Linked DNA regions of Homo sapiens. The protein of the gene in region 1 binds, or shares a complex with, the protein of each later gene. Each region holds a gene or a part of one and is shown in the gene's direction. Other genes may lie near its edges. The genes, in order: ATP2B4 and CALM2.

Region 1 (3,820 bases):
GAGTCTATTTTGACAGTTGACATGGACAGGGAGGAGCAGGGAGGGAAAACTCTGAACAGAAATGCCAACGAGGCCAGACACAAGGCCTCACTCTGTAATCCTACCACACTGGGAGGCCAGGGCAGGAGGATCGCTGGAGCCCAGGCGTTTGAGGCTCCCATGAGCTCTGATCATGACACTGCACTCTAGAATGGGTGATAAAGCAAGACTCAGTCTCAAAAAATTAAAAAGTAAATGCCAGTTGGGCGCAGTGGCTCATACCTGTAATCCCAGCACTTTGGGAAGCCCAGGCAGGTGGATTACTTGAGGTCAGGAGTTTGAGACCAGCCTGGCCAACATGGTGAAACCCTGTCTCTACTAAAAATATAAAAATTAGCCGGAAATCGATTGAACTCAGGAGGCAGAGGTTGCAGTAAGCCAAGATTGTGCCACTGCACTTCCAGTGGGAGACAGAGCGAGACTCCATATCAGATAAATAAATAAATAAATAAATAAATAAATAAAGTAAATGCCAACTAATAAAATCTAGTAGTAATGACAAGATTTTTCTTTAAATTTAATTTTATGTGAGGCTGAGGTGGGTAGATCACCTGAGGTCGGGAGTTTTAGACTAGCCTGACCAATATGGAGAAACCCCGTCTCTACTAAAAATACAAAATTAGCCGGGCGTGGTAGTGCATGCCTATAATCCCAGCTACTCGGGAGGCTGAGGCAGGAGAATCGCTTGAACCTGGGAGGCGGAGGTTGCAGTGAGCCAAGATCACACTATTGCACTCCAGCCTGGGCAAGAAGAGTGAAACTCCGTCTCAAAAAAAATTTTTTTAAATTTAATTTTAATAGAAAAATACTAGTTTCATATATGTATGGGGTGTAATGTGATGTTTTGATATATGCATACATTACGGAACGATTAAGTCAAACTATCAACATATCCATCACCTCACACATTTATCGTTGTTTTTGTAGTGTAAACATTTAAAATCTCTCTTAGCAATTCTGAAACATGCATTACATTAACTATAGTCACCATGTAGTGCAGTAAATCTCAGAAACATTCCTTCTGTCTACTGAAACTTTGCATCTTTTAGCCAACATTATCTTTATTTACCTACCTATTTTTAGAGATAGGGTCTCACTCTGTCAGCCATGTTGGAGTGCAGTGGCCCATAGCCTTGAACTCCTAGGCTCAAGCGATCCTCTTGCCTCAGCCTCCCAAAGCACCAGGATAATGGGTGAGACACAGTGCCAGACTGGAACTTTAAATTGACCAGTTTGCAGCCTCTACTATAATAGCTGATTTAGTCTAGCGTTTAATGGATACTAAAACCACTGGGTGAAAGATTGGTCTTAGCATATCTTAGTTTGGGCTGCTAAAACAACATCATAGACTGGGTGGCTTAAGCAACAGAAATGCATCTCTTTGTTTGTTTGTTTGTTTTTGAGACCGGGTCTTGCTTTATCATCCAGCTGGAGTGCAGTGGCACAATCACAACTCACAGCAGCCTTGATCTCCTGGGCTCAAGCTATCCTCCCACCTCAGCCTCCCAAGTACCTAGGACTACAGGCGCATGCTATCATGCCTGGCTAATTTTCATATTTTTTGTAGAGACGGGGTTTCACCGTGTTGTCCAGATTGGGCTCGAAATCCTGGGCTCAAGCAATCCACCTGCTTCAGCTTCCCAAAGTGCGGGGATTACAGGCATGAACCACCGCACCCGGCCCCATTTATTTATTTATTTATTATTTTTTGAGATGGAGTTTTGCTCTTGTTGCCCAGGCTGGAGTGCAATGCTGCAAACTCAGCTCACCGCAACCTCCGCCTCCTGATTTCAAACGATTCTCCTGCCTCAGCCTCCTGAGTAGCTGGGATTACAGGCATGTACCACTACACCCGGCTAATTTTGTATTTTTAGTAGAGACGAGGTTTCTCCATGTTGGTCAGGCTGGTCTCAAACTCCCAACCTCAGGTGATCCACCCTCCTCAGCCTCCCAAAGTGCTGGGATTGCAGGTTTGAGCTATCACACTCAGCCCCCATTTATTTTTGAAACAGGGCCTTGTTCTGTCACCCAGACTGGGGTGCAGTGGTGCAGTCATAGCTCACTGCAGCCTCAAACTCCCAGGTTCAAGCAATCCTCCGACCTCAGCCTCCCAAGTAACTGGAGCAGGTGCATGCCACCATGGCTGGCTAATTTTTTTGTTGTTATTGTTGTTTTGTTTTTTTGTAGAGATGGATGACATAGGAAGACTCCACCTCTACAAAATAAAAAATTAGCTGGGCATGGAGGCTGTGCACCTGTCTGTAGTCCTAGCTACTCAGCAGGCTGAGGCAGGAGGATAACTTGAGGCTGCAGTGAGCCGTGATCATGAAACTATACTCCAGCCTGTTGACAGAGTGAGACCCTGTCTCAAAAAAAAAAGGTGAAACTAAGTAAAGGGTCTGCAGTTGTTTATTGTGCTATTTTTTTCAACCTTTCAGGTTTGAAATTTTTCCAAATACTTAGCCAGAGAGAGAAGTCCATGCCAGAGGCACTCCTAGATTCCTGGTTTCTTCTCACTTTATCTGCAAAACTCCTGACCAATAGGAGTGTCTTTTCTAAGCTCTTGGGTGCTGAGAGTCCCCATGGAGCACACAGAGGGATCTTCTAAGAAAGTAAGGTCCTTTAGGAAGCCTACCTTCCCACCCTCACTGCTCCCCACCCACAGCCTCTCCTGTCCAGACAGGAGCACCTGGGCCCTGATGAGTGGGCCACAAAGGGAGGTAGGATGACAGGCATTCTCCCACCATGCCATGGGGCCAGCTGAGGGAACCTGGGGACTGAGGGCTTCCAGAGTCACCCACCTAACTTTTGAGGAGACAGGTCCCAGGCTGTAAGAGAAGAAATTCACCAAACAGCCCAGAGATTGTTGCTGACCAAACCTTTAGTGTCCCTTAGAATTCTCTAATTAGGTGATTCTGAAAGAAACCAGCAAGCAGTGCCTGCCTGGAGCCTTCATGCCTGAGCTAAGCAAGGCCTTCTAGGCACTCCCTTGGCAAGGGCAGCACACCTGGCTGTCCTGTCATTGACCCAAATCATTGTGCTACCCACCCCCGCCTCCCCATCCTGATCGTCGCTCTGGAGAGAGATTGAGTTTCCAGGATGGCTTCTCTCTCTCTTTTTCTCCCTCTCTTCTCCTGGAAACCCTGGGGCTAGGCCCTACATGACTCAGGGCTCTTTTTACGTAGGCTCATGTAGGTGACGGCTATTAATCCTTTAGTCAATTCCCCTTCTGTGTTGGTGAGGGAGCCTGAAAGAGCGGGAGCCAGGAAGTTGGAAGGGGGCAGACAGGGAGGAGTTTGTTCTAGTGGGCTGCCAGGCTTGCCAGAAGAGCACGGGACTGGGAGTCAGAAAACTGGTAATCTGGACTCTTGTCTGCTGTGTAACCTTGATTGAAGCAGGGGATATCTCTGGGCCTTCATCAACTGCACTGTTACATGAAACCAAGTTTGGACATACAGACATTCCTGATTCAAGACCCTCCTCTTCTATAGAAGACAAAGGAGTAAAACTCTCAATGCCCAAACCAAACTCTTTTATCACAGATAGAGTCTAGCACAATGTAACAATTTGCAGCCAAGTCCCATCCTTCTGCCCAGGATGACCAGGGGAAAAGAGGCCAAAAAGCATATGGCTTTGAACTGCCACCATTGATGTTTGGGAGTAGAACAGGTTCTAAGATTTCCCACCTCCACCTGCCGGGAACTTCAATTAGGAAGTACCTTCCAAGGCCGTAATTCTGCTATGTCCTAGGCCAGAAACTAAGGAATATTAGCTAGAGGTA
Region 2 (3,820 bases), on another chromosome or scaffold:
TGTAATACGGGGTCGTGCTCCTTAGTGTTGACAGATCACCTATGGTTCTCCAAAATGAACATTCTAGTACAGGAGGTCTAGGGAGGAACCTGAGAGTATACTAATGCCTAGGAACTTTCTCTGGAGTGGCAAGAGCAGTGGGAAGAATTATGTCAATAGCTACAGAAATAAGGGAGTAAGAACAAGTCATCTCTCTAGTGAATTCTTCTTCACTTTACTGAGATAAACATACATGTTAATGAGCTTGAGTTTTCCCAAAAGTATAATTCTTCTGGTTCTTCTAAGAAAATGGCACTCCCTGGAAACAAGGAAGAACCAAATTTATTCGCCTTTGTAGCAGTTGGGAAAGTTAGTGCTAGGAAGTCTTCTTGATTTATAGTAGGCTTTAATCTGGATATTGCTGGTAAAAGTTTATTCTAAAACCTGAACTCTGGATAAGTAATACAAAAAGCTTCTCAACCTTCCAAGCAAAATTGAGAGCTTTCAGGTTATGTGAGTAATTTGGTCTCTTGGGTGCTTAATTCATTCCTTGAAGCTCATTTTTGTGATCTCTTCCAAGATTGCATTTGCTTGGAGGTAGGGAGTTAGACAAGATGGTATGAGGTCCCTAAATTTTGACTTTCCAAGCAAAATTGGACAGTGGTTCCTAAATTGCTAACATCCTCGTTTCTTCCTAAGGCTTCTCATGTTTCATATATAGTAGCCTTCCCAAAGTCCCATTTCCCACCCCCCCCCCCCCCCCAACCCATGTAGAGAGAACGAACCTGTCTCCCTTCCTGTACAGAGTACGGGATCCTTCAACTTTCACACAGGCTGCAGTGTCTGCCACACATTTAGCTCAACTTTTTTTTAGCCTTAAAGTGATGTCCGCTGCATCTGTCGCTGGGTTGCACCTTGTGGATTTAGTTTGCATAAATTTTCTCAGCTTAAACAAAGTTAACATTGAATAGAGTAAGCTTACCATAAAGGGCTTAATAAATGCCATGCATGTCTACATTCGGTGTGGAAATTGAGCTAGTCAGGTTGATATTTAACATTGTAGGTTCTTTGTTAATTTATATGAAATAATGGTTATCATTTAACTCTTTAGGTTAGCTTTGTACATAGCATCTCACTTTGCACAACAACCCTGCAAGGTAAGTATTGTTATTCTTGTGCTACAAATGAAGTTGACTGAGAGGAGGAGTACCACGTCCAAGGTCACACAGCTATTAAATGGCAGGGCTGGGATACTGGCCTGTGACTCAGAACTTGATGCTTTCCCCCCACGCCACGCATGCCAGGTTGCCCTTCCTTTCAGAAATGGTGGAAGTCCTGCAAAATGCAATAAACTGAAGTAATGTAGCTTCTATTAATACAAAGTAAATAACTCAGATTTACTGGATTTTAAACCTTATTCCTTGGGTAAACAATCTGTGACTGACTTCACACCAAATATTTGTTGGCGGAGGATTTGGACTTTAGGGATAAAAGTGGATACATTTTTTATTTTACAAACTCTGTATTTGAACTTAATTATTGGCTCTTCAATTTTACGTTACCAGCTTTTTTTTTTTTTTTTTTTTTTAATGAATTTGATTTACATCATGGTCAAACAAAAATTGTTGAGCAGGGAAAATAAACTGCTTTCTGGATTCCTTCTTGAATTTTCTCATGTGCCCTAGAGAAAATGTGTTCCACATTAAGGTGTTACTTTTTCCAGGGGTGTGTTCATTTAAAAAGAATGAAGCCAGGCAATGTTTATTTTTCTTTTACCTATAAATAAATGAATGGATTAATCATTGTATACTTGACTCCCATGTTGGTAGGGATTTTAGATAGGAGGCTATTTCTTGTCTGTGCTTCTCAATACCCCATAAGCAGTTGCTTCATGGATGTATATACTAATAAGCAGTGAAAGAAAGTGCATGTTCAAAGAATACAACAAGGAGTCTGGATATTTTGCAATCATCTTTATATATTACGGTGCTCTGAATTAAAAGCTAAAAGTTACTGGGTATGTCTGACACCTTAGTGCTTTATCTTTGTTCTACTAATTTTCTGTGCCCCAATCCCACTTAACCCTAGCCTCATTCCTTATCTGTAAGATAGGGGATAATACCACTGTAAGGTTATTATTAAGATTGAATAAGGATAAAATTTATAATGGGTTTTAGCAAATGGCAGAAAATATTTTCTGAAGAAAACCAAGTGCTATTAAAAAAACATCACAAGCCTTGGGCTTACTTTGGGATTTTAAAAACCAAGAGAAAATGGATGGCTGAACTTTCAAACATTTGGTAAATATTATAGTACTGTAGTTCAGAGCTCTGGATTCTTTGCATTTTGCCTGCTGGGTGAGAAGGAATAAAAGTTTGTGCCTTTTTTTTTTTTTAATCACTTTAATTTCAAAACAATGTGTTTAACCATTTGTGGGAGTAATTTTCATTTTGTGAGCCTGAAGCATTTTGATTCAGTGGGAATTTCTGGTGATTTATATCTGGAATAGAAGTGAGCTTAAGTTTAGCTATTCTAACGTTGAAAAAGGAAGCAATGTTTCTATTGGATTCTAAAGTATATTTTCAAAAATATTCTGAAGTATTTGTATATCTTAAACTTGGAGTTAAGACAGCTTAGCTTTGAAGATAAGAGAAACTAGATGTGTGCATTTTCTATCCAGATGTGTTTGTTGCTGGAACTAAATGAAACAGTACATGGTAACCCTTGAAAGGTTTTAAACTTGTTTCTGTAACTGCTAATCTACATACTCTCAAGTCACTAACCTTCCTCTTTGATCTCTTTGTAGGCTGACCAACTGACTGAAGAGCAGATTGCAGGTGAGAAATACTCAGCTAGATTGTACCCATTAGATTCTTATTATAAATTGAATAGCCAACGTCAGAATAAGAGACTTGTATGAAATAATTGACTTTGGTATATGTCATGGATACTAACATATGGGTATAATATAATACAGTAATTCAACCTGCTTTGGCAAGTGGGATTGTAAACTTGCCGATGGAAGATGTGCAGGGCTAATTGTAGTTAAAGACATGTATTTTAGTCTGCGTGGATATACTTTGGAGCCTTGTGGTGTAGTGGTGGTCTTTGTTTTGTTTTCTGAAGACTACCTTAGTATAAAACAGGAATTCTGGGCTAGCTAACACGCTAGAAAAGGAGGCCAAGAAGTAACTAAGGCAACTTGAAATGGAGAATCAAAAAAGGAACAATTGAATTTACCCTAGTTAAAATTAGCTAACATTTTAACCTAAGAATTGCATATATAATCAGTCAGGGAATAACCATTTCTCAAGTGAAAAAATTTAAGAAGTTGGCATTCTATTCTATAAATGTCACTGTAGCAATGTGGATTTTTCTCTTAAAAAACAGTGACAGCTGTTGAAATGAAGCCGCTTAAATCTTGTCCCTTTTAGTTTGCTATGGAAGTATGCAAAATTATTACATAAAACCTGATGTCATGTTCTCTTTATGCCATGCCATAGAACATTAATACTTTTGATTTATCCTTGTACATTGAGATGGCTGGTTAATGTCAATGTTGGGGAAACTTTTTTTTCCCCCCTTGCCGGAGTTGTTTTTTTTTTTTATTGTAGTGTTGAAATGCTTTGCAAACTATTCCTTTGTTTTCATTAGACACTTTTATTAGCATGAGCACCAAGCAGTTTATTTGCCACAGTTTTCACAGTAAGCAGGAAGGGTTTGATAAGAGCTCAAAAGCACTTGAGCACTTTTTCTTAGGCTGGAGAAAACTGAGAAGCCCAGTTGGAACTATATAGCCCATTTAAAGCAAGCTCCCCACTTCCATAAGCATATAGAAGTT

What was found.
Region 2: the proteins of ATP2B4 (region 1) and CALM2 are in contact, whole or in part, in an NMR structure (PDB 2KNE), measured with the Homo sapiens proteins. Residues at the interface, in NP_001675.3 of Homo sapiens: Leu1086, Gly1089, Gln1090, Leu1092, Trp1093, Phe1094, Gly1096, Leu1097, Gln1101, Ile1104, Lys1105, Lys1108, Ala1109, Phe1110, His1111; in NP_001734.1 of Homo sapiens: Leu33, Leu40, Met52, Ile53, Val56, Ile64, Met72, Lys76, Met77, Lys78, Thr80, Glu84, Glu85, Leu113, Glu115, Met125, Glu128, Ala129, Phe142, Met145, Met146, Ala148.

The regions. Positions count from the first base shown.
Region 1 is NC_000001.11:203,633,243-203,637,062, forward strand, and holds part of ATP2B4 (plasma membrane calcium-transporting ATPase 4), read left to right. Parts: intron 1-3,820. UniProt on the Homo sapiens protein: Calcium/calmodulin-regulated and magnesium-dependent enzyme that catalyzes the hydrolysis of ATP coupled with the transport of calcium out of the cell. By regulating sperm cell calcium homeostasis, may play a role in sperm motility.
Region 2 is NC_000002.12:47,169,730-47,173,549, reverse strand, and holds part of CALM2 (calmodulin-2), read left to right. Parts: exon of another isoform or gene 1-1,090; coding exon of another isoform or gene 1,091-1,136; exon of another isoform or gene 1,137-2,785; coding exon 2,786-2,816; intron 2,817-3,820. UniProt on the Homo sapiens protein: Calmodulin acts as part of a calcium signal transduction pathway by mediating the control of a large number of enzymes, ion channels, aquaporins and other proteins through calcium-binding. Calcium-binding is required for the activation of calmodulin.